Regions from separate parts of the Homo sapiens genome. Here region 2 is linked to region 1. Evidence: fine-mapped expression QTL. A gene starts in region 1. The other region holds a variant in brackets. All regions are shown on one strand. Distances are between the middles of the regions. Region 1 holds the start of SPNS3 (SPNS lysolipid transporter 3, sphingosine-1-phosphate (putative)). Region 2 holds the start of LOC124903899 (a long non-coding RNA gene).

The links. PIP is the estimated chance that this variant, and not a neighbour inherited with it, causes the effect.
Region 2: its variant is fine-mapped to the expression of SPNS3 in whole blood (TOPMed, PIP 0.94).

What each region holds. Positions count from the first base shown.
Region 1 is chr17:4,429,343-4,439,682 of GRCh38, forward strand. SPNS3 (SPNS lysolipid transporter 3, sphingosine-1-phosphate (putative)) reads left to right here and starts at 4,598. Exons shown (of 12, transcript NM_182538.5): 1 at 4,598-4,824; 2 at 10,316-10,340. The coding sequence starts at 4,626. RefSeq lists enhancers at 4,660-5,314, 10,047-10,340.
Region 2 is chr17:4,481,696-4,490,865 of GRCh38, forward strand. It overlaps SPNS3 (SPNS lysolipid transporter 3, sphingosine-1-phosphate (putative)), which reads left to right. Exons shown (of 12, transcript NM_182538.5): 10 at 4,533-4,631; 11 at 4,717-4,888; 12 at 6,111-6,509. The coding sequence ends at 6,199. It overlaps LOC124903899 (a long non-coding RNA gene), which reads right to left and starts at 4,757. Exons shown (of 2, transcript XR_007065583.1): 1 at 4,429-4,757; 2 at 1-894. It overlaps SPNS2-AS1 (SPNS2 antisense RNA 1), which reads right to left. Exons shown (of 3, transcript XR_001752763.2): 3 at 8,178-8,296. RefSeq lists enhancers at 1-33, 4,748-4,827, 7,956-9,155, 8,466-8,966. The variant G/GT (reference allele first, on the strand shown) is at 3,380.

The DNA.
Region 1 (10,340 bases):
CCTTTTGTGTCTGGTGTCTTTCACTTAGCATAATGTTTTCTTTTTTTTTTTTTCCGAGACGGAGTCTCACTCTGTCGCCCAGGCTGGAGTGCAGTGGCACAATCTCGGCTCACTGCAACCTCCACCTCCTAGGTTCAAGCCATTGTCCTGCCTCAGCCTTCTGAGTAGCTGGGATTACAAGTGCGGTGCCACCACACCCGGATTATTTTTGTATTTTTAGTAGAGATGGAGTCTCACCTTGTTGATCAGCCTGGTCTCAAACTCTTGACCTCAGGTGATCTGTCTGCCTCGGGCTCCCAAAGTGCTGGGATTACAGGCGTGAGCCACTGTGACCAGCCAGCATAATGTTTTTAAGGTCTATCCGTGTTGTAGCATGAATCAGTACTTCCTTCCTCTTTATGACTGGATACTATTCCATTGTATGATTATGCCACATTTTCTTGACCCATTTATCAGATGGGCGTTTAAGCTGTTTCCACCTTTTGGCTGTTATGAACAGTGCTGCCATGAACATTTATGTACAAGTATTTGTTTGAGTCTTTGTTTTCTTTTCTTTTCTTTTTTTTTTTTCTTTTTTTGAGACAGAGTGACAAAGTTGCTCTGTTGCCCCAGCTAGAGTACAGTGGTCCCATCTTGGCTCATTGCAACCTCTCCCTCCAGGGTTCAAACAATTGTCATGCCTCAGCCTCCCGAGTAGCTGGGACTACAGGTGTGTGCCACTATGCCCAGCTAAATTTTTTGGATTTTTTAGTAAAGACGGGGTTTCACCATGTTGGTCAGGTTGATTTCAAACTCTTTTTTTTTTTTTTTTGAGATGGAATCTCACCCTGTCGCCCAGGCTGGAGTGCAGTGGCGTGATCTTGGCTCACTGTAAGCTCCGCCTCCTGGGTTCATGCCATTCTCATGCCTCAGCCTCCTGAGCAGCTGGGACTACAGGCGCCCGCCACCATGCGCAGCTAACTTTTTGTATTTTTAATAGAGGTAGGGTTTCACCGTGTTAGCCAGGATGGTCTCGATCTCCTGACCTTGTGATCTACCTGCCTCAGCCTCCCAAAGTGCTGGGATTACAGGTGTGAGCCACCGCGCCCAGCCTTGAACTCTTGACCTCAAGCGATCCGTCTGCCTTGGCCTCCCAAAGTGCTGAGATTAGAGGCTCAAAATAGTCTTTGTTTTCAATTCTTTTTTTTTTTTTTTTTTTTTTTGAGACAGAGTCTTACTCTGTCACCCGGGCTGGAGTGCAGTGGTGCAATGTAGGCTCACTGCAATCTCTGCCACCTGGGTTCAAGTGATTCTCCTGCCTCAGCCTCCCGAGTAGCTGGGATTACAGGCGCCTGCCACCGTGCCTGGATAATTTTTTTGTAGTTTTAGTAGAGACAGGGTTTCACTGTCTTCGCCAGGCTGGTCTTGAACTCCTGACATCGTGATCCACCTGCCTCGGCCTCCCAAAGTGCTGGGATTACAGGTGTGAGCCACTGTACCTGGCCTGTTTTCAGTTCTTTTGGATATATACCTAGGATTGGAATTGCAGGGCCATATGGTAATTTTATGTTTAACCTTTGGAGGAACTGCCAAACTTTGTTCCACTGCGGCTGCCTTACTCCACATTCCCAGCAATGCATGAGGCTTTCAATCTCTCCACCAACATTTGTTATTTCCTCTCTCTCTCTTTTTAAAATTATAGCCGTCTTAGTGGGTACGAACTGATATCTTATGGTGGCTTCAATCTGCCATTTTCCTAATGACTTGTGATGTTGAACATTTTTCTTTCTTTTTTTTTTTTTCCCCCGAGATGAAGTCTCGCTCTGTCACCCAGGCTAGAGTGCAGTGGTGTGATCTCAGCTCACCGCAACCTCTGCCACCCGGGTTCAAGCAGTTCTCCTGCCTCAGCCTCCTAAATAGCTGGGATTACAGACACATGCCACCACGCCCAGCTAATTTTTGTATTTTTAGTAGATATGGAGTTTCACTATGTTGGCCAGGCTGGTCTCGAACTCCCAACCTTGTGATCCACCCACCTGAGCCTCCTAAAGTGCTGGGATTGCAGGCGTGAGCTACTGTGCCCAGCCTGAACATCTTTTTATGTGCTTGTCGGTCACCTGTATATCTTCAGAGAAATGTCTGTTCAACTCCTTGGCCCATTTTTGTCCCCCTGATGTTTTTTTTCTTTAGAGATGGGATCTCACTCTGTTGCCCAAGCTGGAGTACAGTGGCATGATTATAGCTCACTGTGGCCTCAACCTCCCAGGCTTAAGTGATCCTTCCACCTCAGCCTCCAGAGTAGCTGGGACTACAGGTCCATGCCACTATGCCCGGCTCTTCACCCATTTTTAAATTGGTTTGTCATTTTATGCTTTAACTTTTTGTTTAGATATAATTTATAACTTATAGAAAGTTTATCATATAGCGTAAAGAAACTCTTATAATCTTTACCCAGATTCATCTATTATTAATATTTGCCCCATTTGTTTTCTTACTATACATATCTAATATTTTTTCCTGAACCGTTTGAGAATGAGTGGCATAAATCATGGCCCTGTACCTCTAGATACTTCAGATAAGGATATTTACTTATTTACTTACATAACCATAGTTCACAGATGCTGATATGCTATTTCTTCCTGATCCAGTTTTATCAGTTGATCCAGTACAGGAGCGAGGTTGGGATCCTGTACTGCTCTTAATTGTCTTATTGTCTTGTCTCTCTTTTTTTTTTTTTTTTTTTTGAGACGGAGTCTTGTTCTGTCACCCAGGCTAGAGTGCAGTGGCACGATCTTGGCTCACTGCAACCTCTGCCTCCCGGGTTCACATGATTCTCCTGCCTCAGCCTCCTGAGTAGCTGGGACTACAGGTGCACACCACCACACCCAGCTACTTTTTTGTGTATTTTTAGTAGAGACAGGGTTTCACTATGTTGGCCAGACTGGTCTCGAACTCCTGACCTCGTGATCCGCCCGCCTGGGCCTCCCAAAGTGCTGGGATTACAGGCATGAGCCACCGCGCCTGGCCTATCTTGTCTCTTTGTTGCTTTTAATCCAAAACAGTCCCTCAGAATATTTTTTTTTTTTCGAGACAGAGTTTTGCTCTTGTTGCCCAGGCTGGAGTGTAATGGCGTGATCTTGGCTCACCACAACCTGTGCCTCCCGGGTTCAAGCAATTCTCCTGCCTCAGCCTCCCGAGTAGCTGAGATTACAGGCACCTGCCACCATGCCTAGTTAGTTTTGTATTTTTAGTAGAGACGGGGTTTCTCCACATTGGTCAGGCTGATCTTGAACTCCCGACCTCAGGTGATCCACCTGCCTCGGCCTCCCAAAGTGCTGGGATAACAAGCGTGAGCCACCACGCCTAGCTCCCTCAGTCTTTCTTAGTCTTTCATGACTCTGACATTTTTCAATATACAGTCCCTTTAAAGAAATAGTGTTTCTCAATTTGGGCTTGTCTGATGTTTTTTCATTTTAAAAATTAAAAAAAAAATTTTTTTTTTTGAGTTGGGGTCTTGCTTTGTCACCCAGCCTGGAGTGCAGTGGCACGAACATGGCTCACTGCAGCCTCGACTTCCCAGGCTAAGGCGATCCTTCCTACCTCAGCCTCCCAAGTAGCTGGGACTGTGGACGCACACCACTACACCCGGCTATTTTTTTTTAAAATTTTTTATTTTTTTGGTATTTTTGTAGCAATGGGGTTTCACCATGTTGCCCAGGCTGGTCACAAACTTCTGGGCTTGGATGATCCTCCTGTCTTGGCCTCCCAGTGTTAGGATTACAGGTGCGAGCCACCGCGTCTGGCTGATGTCTTCTCATGATGAGATTCCGGTTGTGCCTTCCTGGCTGGAATGCCACATAGATGATGCTGTGACCTGCGAAGACCTTCACATCTGGAGGCACACGACACCCTCCTGCCTCTCACAGGTGATTTATTTTAACCCCTTGGTCAAGATGTCTGATTCCTCTACTGTATAGTTACTCTTTTTCCTTTTGTTACTAATAAGCAATCTATCAAGAGATGCTTCGTGACCGTGCTGACACCCTCCCCCCTCACTGAAGTCTTCCCCCCAGATTTAGCCCCCACTGATGAGTTTTGCACACAGGCTGTCTTCTTGTAGGCAGCCCCCTCTGCTACCTTTGTTTTTCCGGGAAGGACCTTAGATCCTGGGTAGGTGCTCATCCTGCCTGGCAGTCGAGTGCAATGCTGCTGTCCTGGCCAATGCCCAGCCTTCCTCATTTGCCCCGGCTTCAAGGCATTGGTTCACAGTCCCGTACGGGCAGCTAGACCATCTCACAGCAAGCAGCACTCTGGGAGGCTCATCTCATTTCCTGCCCTGGAAGCTTCCCTTCCTCACTGCAGCCACTGAAGCTGCAGGCTAGATCAAGGGGACCACAGAGTTGTCCAGTCCCCAGGGTGGGGGTGCCAGGAGCCCTTGTCCTCCGTAGCAGGTCTCAGAGGCTGACGATGGGGAAATCGCACTGGTGAAGCTGCCGTGGGGTCAGGAGGAACCTGCGATAAGACGCCCAACAGTTAGGGCAGGTGCTTTGAGGTTTGGAGCCTGGGACCCCACAGGAAGTGACTTCGTGCTGAGCTAATGTTGCTTCATCCTGGCGCCAGTCTCAGGCCAAGAGCTGCAGGCTGGCATGGCTGGGGGGATGTCAGCGGAGTGCCCTGAGCCTGGGCCAGGAGGTCTGCAGGGCCAGTCCCCAGGGCCAGGCAGGCAGTGTCCCCCTCCCATCACGCCCACCTCCTGGAGCCTGCCCCCGTGGAGGGCCTACGTGGCTGCCGCCGTCCTCTGCTACATCAACCTCCTGAATTACATGAACTGGTTCATCATTGCAGGTGAGGAGGGGATGGCTACCCTGGGCAGTACCTGCTGCTGTGCCCACCAGCCAGGGGCTGCAGATCCATGGTGGCCTTCCAGCCATCACCCATCTTTCTGCTCCTGGGCCCATCTCTGGTGTTCTCACCTCTAGAGGTGGTTTTCAGCTGTGCTCGAATCGGGGAGGACCAACTGATGTTCCCAATCCAGCCTCAACTAAGAAGGGACACAGGCTGGGCATGGTGGCTCCCGCTTGTAATTCCAGCACTTTGGGAGGCTGAGGCAGGAAGATTGCTTGAGCCCAGGAGTTTGAGACCAACCTGGACAACATAGTGAGACTCTGTCTCTATTTATTTATTTTTTTTTTTGAGACAGAGTCTCGCTCTGTCGCCCAGGCTGGAGTGTAGTGGCGCAATCTCAGCTCACTGCAACCTCTGTCTCCCAGGTTCAAGTGATTCTCCTGCCTCAGCCTCCCGAGTAGCTGGGATTACAGGCGTGCACCACCACATCCGGCTAATTTTTGTATTTTGAGTAGAGGAGGAGTAGGGACGGGGTTTTACCATGCTAGTCAGGCTGGTCTCGAACTCCTGACCTCAGGTGATCCACCCGCCTCGGCCTCCCAAAGTGCTGGGATTACAGGCATGAGCCACCGTGCCCGGCCTTTTTTTTTTTTCTTGAGACAGAGTCTCAATCTGTTGCCCAGGCTGGAGTGCAGTGGCGCGATCTCGGCTCACTGCAACTTCTGCCTCCCAGGTTCAAGCGATTCCTATCTCAGCCTCCCGAGTAGCTGGGACTACAGGCGCATACCACCATGCCAGGCTAGTTTTTGTATTTTTAGTAGAGACGGGGTTTTGCCGTGTATGCCAGGCTGTCTCGAACTCCAGACCTCAGGTGATCCGCCTGCCTCGGCCTCCCAAAGTGTTGGGATTATAGGCATGAGCCCCTGCGCCCAGCCGAAACTCTGTCTCTATTTAAAAAATTAAAAATATTTTAGGGCTGGGTGCGGTGGCTCAGGCCTGTAATCCCAGCACTGTGGGAGGCCAAGGTGGGCGGATCACTTGAAGTGAGGACTTTGTGACCAGCCTGGGCAACATGGTGAAACCCCGTCTCTACTAAAACTACAAAAATTAGCCGAGCATGGTAGCGGGCACCTGTAATCTCAGCTACTGGGGAGGCTGAGGCAGAGAATTGCTTGAACCTGGGAGGTGGATGTTGCAGTGAGCCGAGATCCCACCATTGAGCCAAGATCCCACCATTGCACTCCAGTCTGGGCGACAGAGCAAGGCTCTGTCTCAAAAAAAAAAAAATAAAAAATAAAAAATAAATAAATAAATAAATATTTTTTAAAAATTAAGGGAGGGCACAGTGGGGGTGGGGCCAGAGACATAATGAGGGGTGGGTGGGTGAGGACAGCAGGCAGGACTTCCAGGCAGAGGCCCCCAGGTTCTAGGTGGAGGACAGGGTAGCCTGGGCCAGACAAGAATAGCTCCTGCTGGCTGTGTTTCTAGGACAACAGGCTGCTCGCAAACCTCACACGTCCTGCCTTCCTTCTTGCAGGCTTCAGGGCTCAACCTGCTCTGTCTTCTGTCACTCATTCACTAACTCACTCACTCATTCATTCATTCAAGACTGATCAGGGGCCAGGCGTGGTGGCTCACGCCTGTAATCCCAGCTACTCGGGAGGCTGAGGCAGGACAGTCGCTTGAACCCGGGAGGCGGAGGTTGCGGTGAGCTGAGATCGTGCCACTGCACTCCAGCCTGGGCGACAGAGCGAGACTCCGTCTCAAACAAAGACAACAACAATAACAACAGCTGATTGAGGCTCCACTTGCTCTTCTCTTCTTGTCATTCATTCATTCAAGACCGGCTGAGCACTAACTGTGGGCAGGACCCCCTGCTGGCTGCTGTGGACCCAGGGAGGAAATCGGACTTGGAGTTCCTGAACTCAGGAATGACCATCTCATGGGGCAGAGATAGAGGCTGGTTGATGGCAGTCCTGCGAGGCGGAGAGGTGCGGCCAGACAAGGGGGAGGCACAGGCCGGGCTGGGAGCTCAGGAGGGTGCCTGCAGCTGCCAGGCATCTCTGAGACCTGGGCATCGATCTGTCAGTTACCAGCTCAGCATGCCAGAGAGTGGCTATGGAATCATGAAACTCTAGGGGCTGCAGAGCCATCCCCAGACCTGGTCATCGTCTTTGAGGAGCTCAGAGGTCAGGAGCTTCTCCTCACATGAGGTCAGGAGTTCGAGACCAGCCTGGGTAACATAGAAAAACCTTGTCTCTACAAAAAATTTAAAAAATTAGCCAGGGACAGTGATGTCTTCAGCCTCTCGGGAGGCTGAAGCAGGAGGATTGCTTGAGGCTGAAGCAGGAGGATTGCTTGAGGCTGAAGCGGGAGGATTGCTTGAGGCTGCGGTGAGCCCTCTAGCCTGAGTGACAGAGCAAGATCTTATCTAAACCCCTAAAGACAAAAAGCCAAAACAAAGCAAAACAAAACACATGAAACAAAAAACCCCAAAGGGGTGTATGGGGTGAGAACAGAGCTTCTTGGGTGCCAGACTGGGAGCTTGGACTTTCTGCCTTGGGCAATGGGGAGCCATATAATTGGATTTGAGGCCCTGATGGAGGCAAAATGAGCCAGGGAGTCAGTTCAGAGGCTGCTGTAGTGGATCAGGCCAAAGCTGAGGAGGCCTGAGTTGGAGTGTGGGCCAAGGGCACGCAAAGGCGAGAAGGGGCAAGAGGTGGATGGGAGCCAGGAATCACCAGTGTGGAGCTCTCTGAACCCACGAGCCTGGGGACCCGCTATCTCTGCCGCTAGCCCTGGAGGTCCCTGGCTGGGCCCTAAGACCCTGAGTCTTGCCTGTCCAGGTCCCTTCTCCATCAGCACTTCCTCTGTATGTGCAAGAAAGGGGGCTGTGGTTACTGTGGGGATAGAGACCTGGAGAAGTGAAACCGTGCTGAGCATCTGGGAACTGGTGGGGGTAAACAGCTAAAATGTTCTTGCAGGAAACAGCTCTTATGGGGCCAGGGTGGTAGGCTACAGATGAAAGCAAGGGTGGGTGCACGCTTGGCTCTGGATCACCTCTAGAGTACCATGGGGCTGAGAGGAGCCCAGGAGGAGAGAAAACAAGGGGATGAGTCCTCATTCCTGAAAATGGAAGATGGGCACAATTTGGAGCATTTTCGTTTAGCTATTTATTTTGCTTACCTGTGTTGTCTCCTTTTTTTCTTTCCAATGACTGTCTTCTTTGTGTATTTAAAATAATAAAAGGGGGACTTTGAGAGGCCGAGGCAGGTGGATCACCTGAGATCAGGAGTTCGAGACCAGACTGGCCAAAATGGTGAAACCCCGTCTCTACTAAAAATACAAAAATTAGCCAGGCGTGATGGCGGGCACCTGTAATCCCAGCTACTTGGGAGGCCGAGGCAGGAAAATTGCCTGAACCCAGGAGGCAGAGGTTGCAGTGAGCTGAGATCGTGTCACTGCACTTCAGCCTGGATGAAATAGTGAGATTCAGTCTCAAAAATAAATAAATAAAATAAAAATAAAAAACAAAATATTAAAAGGGGAAAAAGACATAACAGTTTGTATGCCAGGTTGCAGTGGCAATTGGGGACAAATTAAATGTCTAAACAAAGATTTCTTTTTTTTTTTTTTTGGAGACGGAGTCTCACTCTGTCGCCCAGGCTGGAGTGCAGTGGCATGATCTCAGCTCACTGCAACCTCCGCCTCCCAGGTTCAAGCGATTCTCCTGCCTCAGCCTCCTGAGTAGCTGGGACTACAGGCCTGTGCCACAACATCTGGCTAATTTTTTGTATTTTTAAATAGAGATGGGATTTCACTGTGTTAGCCACGATGGTCTTGATCTCCTGACCTCAAGATCTGCCGGCCTCGGCCTCCCAAAGTGCTGGGATTACAGGCGTGAGCCACCACGTCCCTCCCTGAGCAAGGATTTTTTGCTTTGCTCCTCTGATCCCTTGATCTTCATGTGCATGGGGCAGCTCTTAGAGGTGTGCACGCAGGGCTTTCTTGGTGTGGGTGTTTCTGCGGGGACCCACTTGGGGGCTTCTGCTCCCCTTCTGTGGTTCTGGGTGTGTGGACAGGCTGCCTCTGGCTGAGATTTGAGCCCCAGCTCCCCCAGCTTCAGACGGGCAACCTTGGGCCGCTAAAGCCTCTGTTTCCTCATCTGTAGAATGGGGGCAATGACAGTCCCCCTCTTTTAGGATGACAACTGCGAGTGTACAGCTCAGGGCCTGGCTGTCAGTCACCTCCTGACTGATGAAAGTGAGGATTGTTCTTCTTCATAATAATGACAGGGCCAGAGCCGCATGGCTCACGTGAGCAGGTGCTGCAGACCCCGACCCTTTCTAGGACACCAAGAGGCTATCAGGAAACAGACCCTGGTGTCTGGGAGACCCACTTTCTCTCTCTACATTAGGCTGGGTGCCCACTGCTGTGCCTCTGGAAGAACAGGCTTGTGTGTGCACATGCGTGCAAGCCAGGACACGTTCGTCTTTTTATGTACATGTTCACCTATGCATTTCCAGTGTTTGTGCATGAGCGAGGCCACTGTGCTGTACAGCTCCAGGGACTTCCGTTTACACAGTGGCCTAAGTAAAGGGCTGTGCACTGAGCAGCGACAGGGGGCTGCCGCTCCTCTGACTGCAGTGTGGATGGCAGCCCTGAGCCTGTGCATACGCGGGCAGGCCTCTGGGTGCACATCTCACTGCACATGTGTCTGTGTGTCTGGGTGTATGAGTGAGGCTGGGTGTACATGTCTGTGAGAGTGAGTTCCTGTGTGTGTGTGTGTGTGTGTGTGTATTTGTGCCTCTGCAGGTGTGTTTCTCTGGGAATGCCTGTTTGTATCTATATCTGTGTTCCCATATGAAGAGGAGGGAAGGAGCCGTGTGGCTGCGTGCTTATGTGTCAGTGTGTGTGTGTGAATGTCTGTGCCTTTGGGATGCTTCTTTCTTTCTTTTTCTTTCTTTTTTTTTTGAGATGGAGCGTGGCTCTTGTTGCCCAGGCTGGAGTGCAATGGCGCGATCTCGGCTCACTGCAACCTCCACCTCCCAGGCTCAAGCAATTCTCCTGCCTCAGCCTCCCGAGTAGCTGGGATTACAGGCGCCCGCCACCACGTCCGGCTAATTTTTTGTACTTTTAGTAGAGACGGGGTTTCACCACGTTGACCATGGCTGGTCTCAAGCTCCTGACCTCAGGTGATCCGCCAGCCTTGGCCTCCCAAACTGCTGAGATTACAGGCGTGAGCCACCGTGCCCAGCCAAGGGATGCTTGTTTCTTTGAGTGTTTGAAATGCACACGTTTCTCTGTGTGCCTGCTCTTGTGTGTGTGGTTGTACAGCTGTATGGGAGAGAGGGGGAGAGAACAGTGGGCTTGGGTGCCATGCCCTGTGCTGTGCTGGTCAGCTGTGGCCCTGTGCCAAACCTGGAGCAGCTGCCTTTAGAGGCCAGGAGGGCTACTTCCCGTTTCCTGAGCACTGTCCCTCTGTCTGCAGGAGTGCTGCTGGATATACAGGAGGT
Region 2 (9,170 bases), 52 kb after region 1:
AGTGACTGAACCTCTCTGGGTCTTGGTTTGCTCACCTGTCCAGTAGGTAGAGCGGTGGCAACCACCATTGACACCCCAGGCTATAAGGATAGAATGAACTCACACCTGCGTCCTGCAGATTCCTGAGTGGGCGTGTGGGCCCCACTGACTTCCAGATCATCCCTTCCTTGGGACACTGCTCTCTCTCTCTCTTTTTTTTTTTTTTTACTTTTGAGACGGAGTCTCGCACTGTCGCCAGGCTGGAGTGCAGTGGTGCGATCTCAGCTCACTGCGACCTCTGCCTCCTGGGTTCAAGCGATTCTCCTGCCTCAGCCTCCTGAATAGCTGGGACTACAGGCATGCGCCACCACGCCCAGCTAATTTTTGTATTTTTAGTAGAGACGGGGTTCACCATGTTGGCCAGGATGGTCTCGATCTCTTGACCTCATGATCCGCCCCCCTTGGCCTCCCAGAATGCTGGGATTATAGGTGTGAGCCACTGCGCCTGTCCAGGACACTGTTCTCTTTGATGCCATCTCCACAATGGGGAGAATCCAGGTTATCTCTGGAGAAGGGACCTCAGGGGCTCTCCGGTCCGGTGGCTTGGAGACGTCATTGTGCATGAGAGTCAGATTTGAGGGAGCTTGTGACAAACCCAGATTCCAGGCCCTGTGTCCTCTGAGTCTGATTCAGTGGGTCCGTGCTGGGGTCCAGGGACCTGCATTTCTGATGAACTTCCCAAGTGATCCTGCCGTAGCATTCCGTAGAGCACGCTTTGAGAACACTGGTCTCACGCCGCAAGCTCCCCAGTCCATAAATGCTTTGCCAAATTCTAGCCATCCCCTTGTTGACATACGCCTCCAATGGGGAGCTCGTTCTGCATACCTCGGGCAGCCCCTGCCTCTCGGGGGGTTTCTGTTGATGAAAATGATTTGGTTCAGTCACAGCCAAGACCCACCTCTGCCAGCCTCCCCTTGGCCCCGCTGGGCCATAGAGGGGCCCTGCTCCCTGGAGACTGAGATCGTGTCCCCTGAACCCGCATCTCCCCAGGCAGAGCTCCCTGCCTCCCGAAACCTAGTCATGAGGTCTTCAGCTCCCTCCCAGCCCTGCTGTCTGTCCCCGCCCCACTCAGGATGGCCCAGAGCCAGCTCACCCCAATCCCCCTCCAGGCAGGGGACAGTGTAAGCAAAGGTGTGGAGGGAGGATCCCAGGGGCACGATCTCTGGATCCCAACCAGTTGGGGGGCTAGAGCAGAAGGGGAGCTCATTCCCTCTTTCTCAGCCCTGTCCTCTGGGGTCCTGGAATCCAGCCACAGGCTCATCTCCCACCCCTCAGCAGACGTCCCCACAGTTCCCCGGAGAGTTGTCACCTCTGCGTTCTCCCCCTGCCCCAGGTCTCCATGCTTCCCTGCTCAGCCTCTGCCCCCCAGGTAGCTGTCTGCTCACTGGCCTGTCTCACCCTCTCAGGGGCGTCTGGGGGCGAGGCCTGGGTGGGGGTGCAGGAGGCAGGCTGCCTGGTGGCTGCTGCTCCGACTTGCTGCAAGCCCTTGGGTGGCCCTGGTTTCGCCCTCGGCTATAAAGGGAACGGCCCTTCTAAGAAGGGAGAGCCAGAAACAGAGGTGTTTTTGTCTCAGAATAGAGTGAGCCTGGATTTTTGGGAACCCAAAGCCTCTTATTTCTGAAATTACCCCCTGGGCTCTCCAGCTTCTGTGGGCCCAGCCTTGGCTGCTGGCTGCACGGAGACAATGAGGACTTGGAACAGGCTGGGGGAGACCCACCTCTCTCGCCACTGGCAGCAGTGACTGAGCTGGGCCCAGCAGGTTGGGGTTCCTGGGAGAGGAGGAAGGGGCCAGCCTACCTGGACCTAACTGTGGGGGTCCCAGCAGCCCCAGCCTCCATGTGGACCTTTCTGAACATTCAGGTTCCTCCCTCCAGGAAGCCTCACCTGCCTTCCCAGAGCCACCAGTGAGTAATCACATAATTATGGGGTGAGAAGGAAGTCCTTGGGGAAGGTGCAAAGCTGTTGGTCAGTTCCTTCTCAGGCCTGTTGACAGATCCTGGTGATGGCAAGAGGCCCGGTTTCTCTTGCCACCTGTACATGGTGGCTCAGTCCCAGTGACCCTGGGACCAGCGAGTCACTACAGTGCCTCCTGCCACTCTGCCCTGCCCACCACCAAACCCCCTGCATCTGTCCCCTGGGATTCTGGAATCCAGAGATCGTGTCCCTGGGATCCTCCCTCCACACCGTCGCTTACACTGTCCCCTGCCTGGAATGCCTTTCCCCGTCTCTTTGCCAGTTACTCTGCCATCCGTTTACAGGGCTAGTGATGAACTTGTCCTCCTCATCTTTCTCAGATTTCTGAATGTTCTATTACAAATGCATAAATATTGCTAGAAACACCGGCTCCTCCTTGCCCATCACAGCAGAGTGGTCAAAAGGCCAGATCCTAGAGGGAGAAGGCCTGCAATCCTCTCTCAGCCCTGTTATTTCAGGCTGGGTGATGTTGGGCAAGTCACTTGCCCTCCCTGTGGAGGTTTTCCTCATCTGTAAAAATGCAGGTGATCATCATCTCCCTCTCATGGGTTGTTCAAGTTGATATATAAAATGTATACAGCAAGCATTCAATAAATGTTGGCAATTATTATTATTTTATTATTATTTTTTGAGACAGGATCTTGCTCTTTCACTCAGGCTGGAGTATAGTGGTGCCACCTCGGCTCACTAGAACCTCCACCTCCCGGGTTCAAGCGATTCTCCTGCCTCAGCCTCCTGAGTAGCTGGGATTATAGGCACGCGCCACCACACCCAGCTAATTTTTGTATTTTTAGTAGAGATGGGATTTCGCCATGTTGGCCAGGCTGGTCTTGAACTCCTGACCTCAAGTGATCCACCTGCCTCAGTCTCCCAAAGTGCTGGGATTACAGGTGTGAGCCACTGTGCCCAGCTAATATTGATTAACTCAAGGCCTCAGATCATGGACACCTAGGTCTTGGGGATACGGCTCCAGGGTGTAAGCGCCCCTGTGGCTGTCCAGTTGGGTTCATGTGACCATGTGGTCTCTGCTTGAGTCCCCTCCCCCTCCCTCCTTCCATCCCCTGCTGTAGCCCTGGGTTCTGGCAGACTTTCTCCTGGGAATAGTCTCCCAGATGGACCTACTTGAGTTATTTGGTTGGCAAACTTTCAGCTAGTCCCCTCTGTGCCTGGTGTCTTGCAGGGACCCCAAGAGAAATTAAGGGTCTTTGTTGCCCACACAACATAGGGAATAAGGGGTGGTGGACAGAGAAAGGGCCCCTCCCAGTTCTGGGAGACATGCGTTAATTAGGGGTGTGCATAGGAGTTGCGGGAGCTCAGGGCAGGTACCTGAACTCTGAGAGGGCTTCACAGAGGAGATGACCGAAAC[G/GT]TAAGTCCTAAATGACAAATATAGATGCTCCAGCTGGACCAGAGAGTGGAAGGCACGCCAGGCAGAAGGCGCAGCTGAGTTCAAGGGCCTGGAGCATCCTGTCTCAGAGCGTTATTTTGGTCTGATGTCCACACGAAGCCTCCAGGTAGCAGACGAATAACGATAATGAATAAAACTCTCAAGATCAGTACCATTATTACCCCCACTTGGGGATGGAGAGACTGAGGGAAGAAAGGTGAAACAGTTTGCTCAAAGTCACACAGCTAGCGAGTGGGGATCTGGATCGGAACCTGAGTGTGTGACACCAGAGTTCTTTATTTTTTTTATTTTTTTTTTTTTTGAGATGGGATTTTGCTCTTGTTGCCCAGGTTGGATTGCAGTGGTACGATCTCAGCTCACTGCAACCTCCGCCTCCCGTGTTCAAGCAATTCTCCTGCCTCAACCTCCCGAGTAGCTGGGATTACAGGCATGTGCCACCACGCCGGCTAGTTTTTGTATTTTTAGTAGAGACAGGGTTTCACCATGTTGCCAGGCTGGTCTTGACCTCCTGACCTCGGGTGATCCACCCGCCTTGGCCTCCCAAAGTGCTGGGATTACAGACGTGAGCCACCGCGCCTGGCCCAGAGTTCATCTTCTTTATGTTCTCAGCCTTGTCCGTGGAGTCGTGCGGGCTTCTCCAGCAAGGCCGCCTTTGGTCTCTGCCCCAGGGGCCTTGAGGTTCCTGAGAGGACTGAGCCCTCCGTACCACCCCTGCCCAATTGCCTGCACATGCAGACACCTGGCATGCACCCGCTCTTCGCCCTGCCCGCTTGTGCTGCTGCATCCTGGGCCCCTGAGCTGGGACACCCCAGCCTCATTCACTGTGGTCACATGCATGCCTGGTTCCTTCCCAGTTCAAGAGCAAACTCTCAAGAGGGGTGGCCCTGATCAGGGGCCTTGGCACCCCCATCCTGGGGCACTGGGGAAGCTTCAGATGGGCTTGATGTCTTGATGTTCTGGGGTGGGACTTTAGACCTTGGGGACCGTCGACTCCCTCCCATCCCACTCACCTGAATGGCCTGTCACTCCTCCAGGCAGGTCCTTGGCAGGTGGGGAACAGCAGGCAAGGGTGCCCTCACTTGGGGTGCCCCCCTGCTGTGCCTATGTTTTGCAGTCTGTGGTGGTGCCCAGATGCCGGGGGACGGCAGAGGCACTTCAGATCACGGTGGGCCACATCCTGGGAGACGCTGGCAGCCCCTATCTCACAGGACTTGTAAGACGTGTCTGCGTGTGTGGGGTGGGGAGGGTCTGGGGGCCAGGCTGGTGGGCCTGGCAGACTCATCCCTTCTCCTCCGCAGATCTCTAGTGTCCTGCGGGCCAGGCGCCCTGACTCCTATCTGCAGCGCTTCCGCAGCCTGCAGCAGAGCTTCCTGTGCTGCGCCTTTGTCATCGCCCTGGGGGGCGGCTGCTTCCTGCTGACTGCGCTGTACCTGGAGAGAGACGAGACCCGGGCCTGGCAGCCTGTCACAGGTACCCTACCCATTGCACCAGGCCCGGCTCAGGGCCGGCACCCTAGGGACAGACAGCACTGGCCACCCCCTGAATCCCTGGCCAGTTTGTTTGTTCATTCATCCAGAAATGCTTAGTACACCCCTGCTATGTACCAGGGAAGGTTGCAGATGCTGGGGAGTGAAAGAATGAGGCCAAGTCCAGGCCCCTGTAGAAACTGACACTGTAGTTGGTGAAGACAGACCAGAAACAGAAAAGGTTAAAGATATAGCATGTTCAGGGTGACGAGTGCTATGGAGAGGTATAAAGCAGGAAAGGAAGGAGAAAGGGGCCGGGCGCGGTGGCTCACACCTGTAATCCCAGTACTTGGGGAGGCCAAGGCGGGCGGATTACAAGGTTAGGAGTTCAAGACCAGCCTGGGCAACATGGTGAAGCCCTGTCTCTACTAAAAATATAAAAATTAGCCAGGTGCGGTGGCACACACCTGTAGTCCCAGCTACTCAGGAGGCTGAGGCAGGAGAATCACTTGAACCCGGGAGGCGGAGGCTATAGTGAGCTGAGATCTCGCCACTGCACTCCAGCCTGGGCGACAGCAAGACTGTCTCAAAAAAAAAAAAAAAAAAAAAAAAGGGACAGGTAGGTGCAGGCTGCAAGGATCCCCACTGCACAGGCGAAACTAGAGCAAAGATCTGGAGGAAACGAGGGAGTGAGCCGTTCAGCGACCTGGGGAAAGACGCTTCCGGCAGTGGGGACAATCAATGCAAAGGCCCTGCCATGGGAATGCACCTGATATGTTTGAGGATCAGCAAGGAGGCCAGTGTGGCTGCAGCAGAAGCAAGAGGGACAGTGGTAGGGGTGAGGGATACGGGGCCAGAGCAGGCAGTCCTTGTAAAGACAGTGGCTTTTGCTCAGAGTGAGACGGGAGCTGCTGTGGGGCTTCCAGGAGAGGAGCACCGAGGTGGTCTGATTGATGTTGCCAAAGCATCTCCCTGGCTGCTGTGTTGAGAACAGACTGTAGGAGGGTCAGTGTTGAGGCCGAGAGGCATAGCCGACTCCCCTTCCAGGGGAGAGTGGTGCCTAGACCACGCCAGTGGCATTGAAGGTGATGACAAGGGGTTGGATCTGGAATGTATTCTGCATTTGGGACAGAGAGGATTTCCTGACAGCCCGTGCCCAGGCCCAGGCCTGGTCCCAAAGCACCTTCTGCAACCTTCGGGCAGGCTGAGCATCTTTCCTCCTGCAGGGACCCCAGACAGCAATGATGTGGACAGCAACGACCTGGAGAGACAAGGCCTACTTTCGGGCGCTGGCGCCTCTACAGAGGAGCCCTGAGGTCCCTGCCTACACTCGTCCTGCCTGCAAGCCTCCCGTTGGTCCCCACAGCAGCAGTGCCTCGGTTCCTCTTTGGCTGTCCTCGGGGACTCCGGCTGAGGCACATCTGCCACTTTTGAATTCCCGGCTGGAGAGCTGGCAGGACCCTGTGGCTGGGCTGGGAATGGAGCTGTCAGCACTCTGCGTGGGAGGCCTGGGCCTGTGCCTGCATCCCGCTCAAGGCTGCCCCAGCCTGGGGTCTCCAGCCTGGCTGCTGCTGGGCCCTGAATAAAGAGAGGCCAGTACAAAGCCCATGGATTTTGGGCCTGTAGACAGCCGTGTTATTTATAGCCTCTCGTGCCTCTGCTGGAGGGGAAGTGGGTGAGGACGGGATGGGCAGTCCAGGCCAAGGATGCAGGGCTGTCCTGAAGTGGGGAAGCTGGGGGGCTGGCTCAGCATGGGTCTCTAGGGGTCCGCAGCCTGGACCTCCCACTCTGACCCAGCTTCTCCATTCTGCAAAGTCACAGGCACAGGACACCCTCTACGTGATTCCACTCTTTGTTTTGTTTTGTTTTTGAGATGGAGTTTAGCTCTTGTCCAGGCTGGAGTGCAGTGGCGCAATCTCGGCTCATTGCAACCTCCGCCTCCCAGGTTCAAGAGATTCTTCTGCCTCAGCCTCCTAAGTAGCTGGGATTACAGGCATGTGCCACCACGCCCAACTAATTTTTGTATTTTTAGTAGAGACAGGGTTTCACCATGTTGGCCAGGCTGGTCTTGACCTCCTGACCTTAGGTGATCCGCCAGCCTCGGCCTTCCGAAGTGCTGAGATTATAGGCATGAGCCACCGTGCCCAGCCAACTCCACCCTTTGAACAAAACGTGGGGGCTGAATCTTGCTCTTGGAGATGAGTTTCCACTTGGGTGCTGGGGTGGGGATGTGGCTCCAAGTTCCAGGGAACCACGCAGAGGAACCCACGCCTATACAGACACGGGCGCAGCGGCCCCAGAACCCTGCTGAGGACTTGAGTGGCCGTGCAGGGATCCTCCTGGCCTGCCCAGTTCTGTAGCCCCGGTCTTCCCTGGGTCCACGCTCTGACCCCAGCACAGCGTATGGGGAGGGCTGGCTCTGCGGGGCCCACGCTTGCCACTGGGTTCAGAGCAGCTGGGCTCAGCGGGCCCTGTGGGAGATCGACAGCTTCCAGGCGGGCAGCAGTGGGGAGGCTTGTTCTCATGTTCTTTCCGCCTCCCCTGGTGCCCAGCCAGGCGATCACTTGCTCACTCACCGATGGCCACCTTCGCTGTGCCAGGCTGTGCCTGTCTCCCAGCAGCTGCAGGCAGAGCAACGACCGAGACTCCTGCGCAGCCCCTGATGCTTGCTGCTCTGTCCCTGCCTTCTGTGGGGTGCCCCCCAGCCCTCCCTGTTGGCTGCAACAAGCCCCAGGAGCAGGGCCGCACCACAGCCAGCCCTCCCTGCAGGCTAGCCAGGCCCTTGACCGTGACTCAATGCTTGGAGCTTATGCAACAGGCAGCCCTTCAAGTTACAAGGTAAAAGATCTGTGAGGATATTTTGTTTTTCCTGAGAAGGAGGCAGCAACTGGGCAGGAGCCAGGATGCCACGGTCCCTCTCAACATTCACTGGCTGTGTGACCTAGGTGGCTCCCTGACTCCCTGGCTGTGTTTGAGAGGTGTGTTGACATGGCTTTCTAGCCTGGGCCTCATGTGATTAGCACAGGCTGGGTCTAGACCCACAGAAGCCCAGCTCCAGGGTCTGAACCTTCCTCCCAACAGCCCCAGGGAGGACCCCTGCAAGGCGAGGCTCCCGGAAAATGAGTGAGGGCCGCCCAAGGGTCAGAACACTCAGCTGGGCACAGCGGCTCACGCCTGTAATCCCAACACTTTGGGAGGCAGAGGCTGATGTATTGCTTGAGGTCAGGAGTTCAAGACCAGCCTGGGCAACATGGTGAAACCCCGTCTCTACCAAAAATACCAAAACATACCTGGGCGTGGTGGCACGCATCTGTGGTCCCAGCTCTGGGAGGCTGAGGTGGGAGGATCGCTTGATCCTGGGGATGGGGGGTGGAGTTCGTCGTGAAGGGAGATGGCACCACTGCACTCCAACCTGAGTGACACAGTGAGACTTTGTCTTAAAAAAAAAAAAAAAAAAGAACACCAGCTGCCACCTCCCCACCCAGAGTCCAGTAGAGGAAGAGCAAGAACCTCGTTCATGCCAACTCTACAAACATGCATTGGTATCGGCGGGTGCCCATCAGGGTGTCCAGCAGTGAATCAGACTCCAGCCCTGCCCTTGGACCTCGCAGCCCACAGCAGGACAGGCAAGTGTGGCACACCTATGGGCAGAGTAAGGGCTTCCGTGCCCCAGAAGCCTTCAAGGAAGTGGCTTTGGAGTTGGTAACAAGGTGGGGGGCAAAGGGAATTCTAGATGCAGGGGATGGACCCACAAAGAGGGGGAGAGTGGGGCAGAAGATTTGCAGTGAGTCATGGAGGGGTGTGGTATGGCCAGAGAGGAGGGTGCGTGTGTCATTGAGCGGGGAGAGGAGGTGAGAGAGGCCATCTGGGATCAGAGGGGCGTCAGATGTAGGTCCAGGAGCTGGGGCTTTAATCCTATAATCCAGGGTAGTTTCTTATGACTCAAGTGCATTCTGATATTTGGGTTGCTGGGCAGGGCAAGGCGGTACTTCCCAAGGCTGAGCCACACGAGGTGCCCAGCTGGGAGTTTATAGGAAGCTATTGTCTAAAGTGGTTTGGGGCAGAGTGGGAGCTCTGGGGCTGGTGGACGCGGCAAGTGACAGAGACCAATATCTCCTCTGCAGCCAACCCAGACTCCCACCTCCTGCCTCTTTGGGGCCAGTCCTGGTGGGTCGAGGTTACGATAACAGCCTGGGGGAACCCAGCCACTCAGGCTGGAGTGGAGTCTGGTAAACAGAACACATCTTCCTCGCCTAAAGGCCCTTGTTGGGTAATCTCAGCCACGA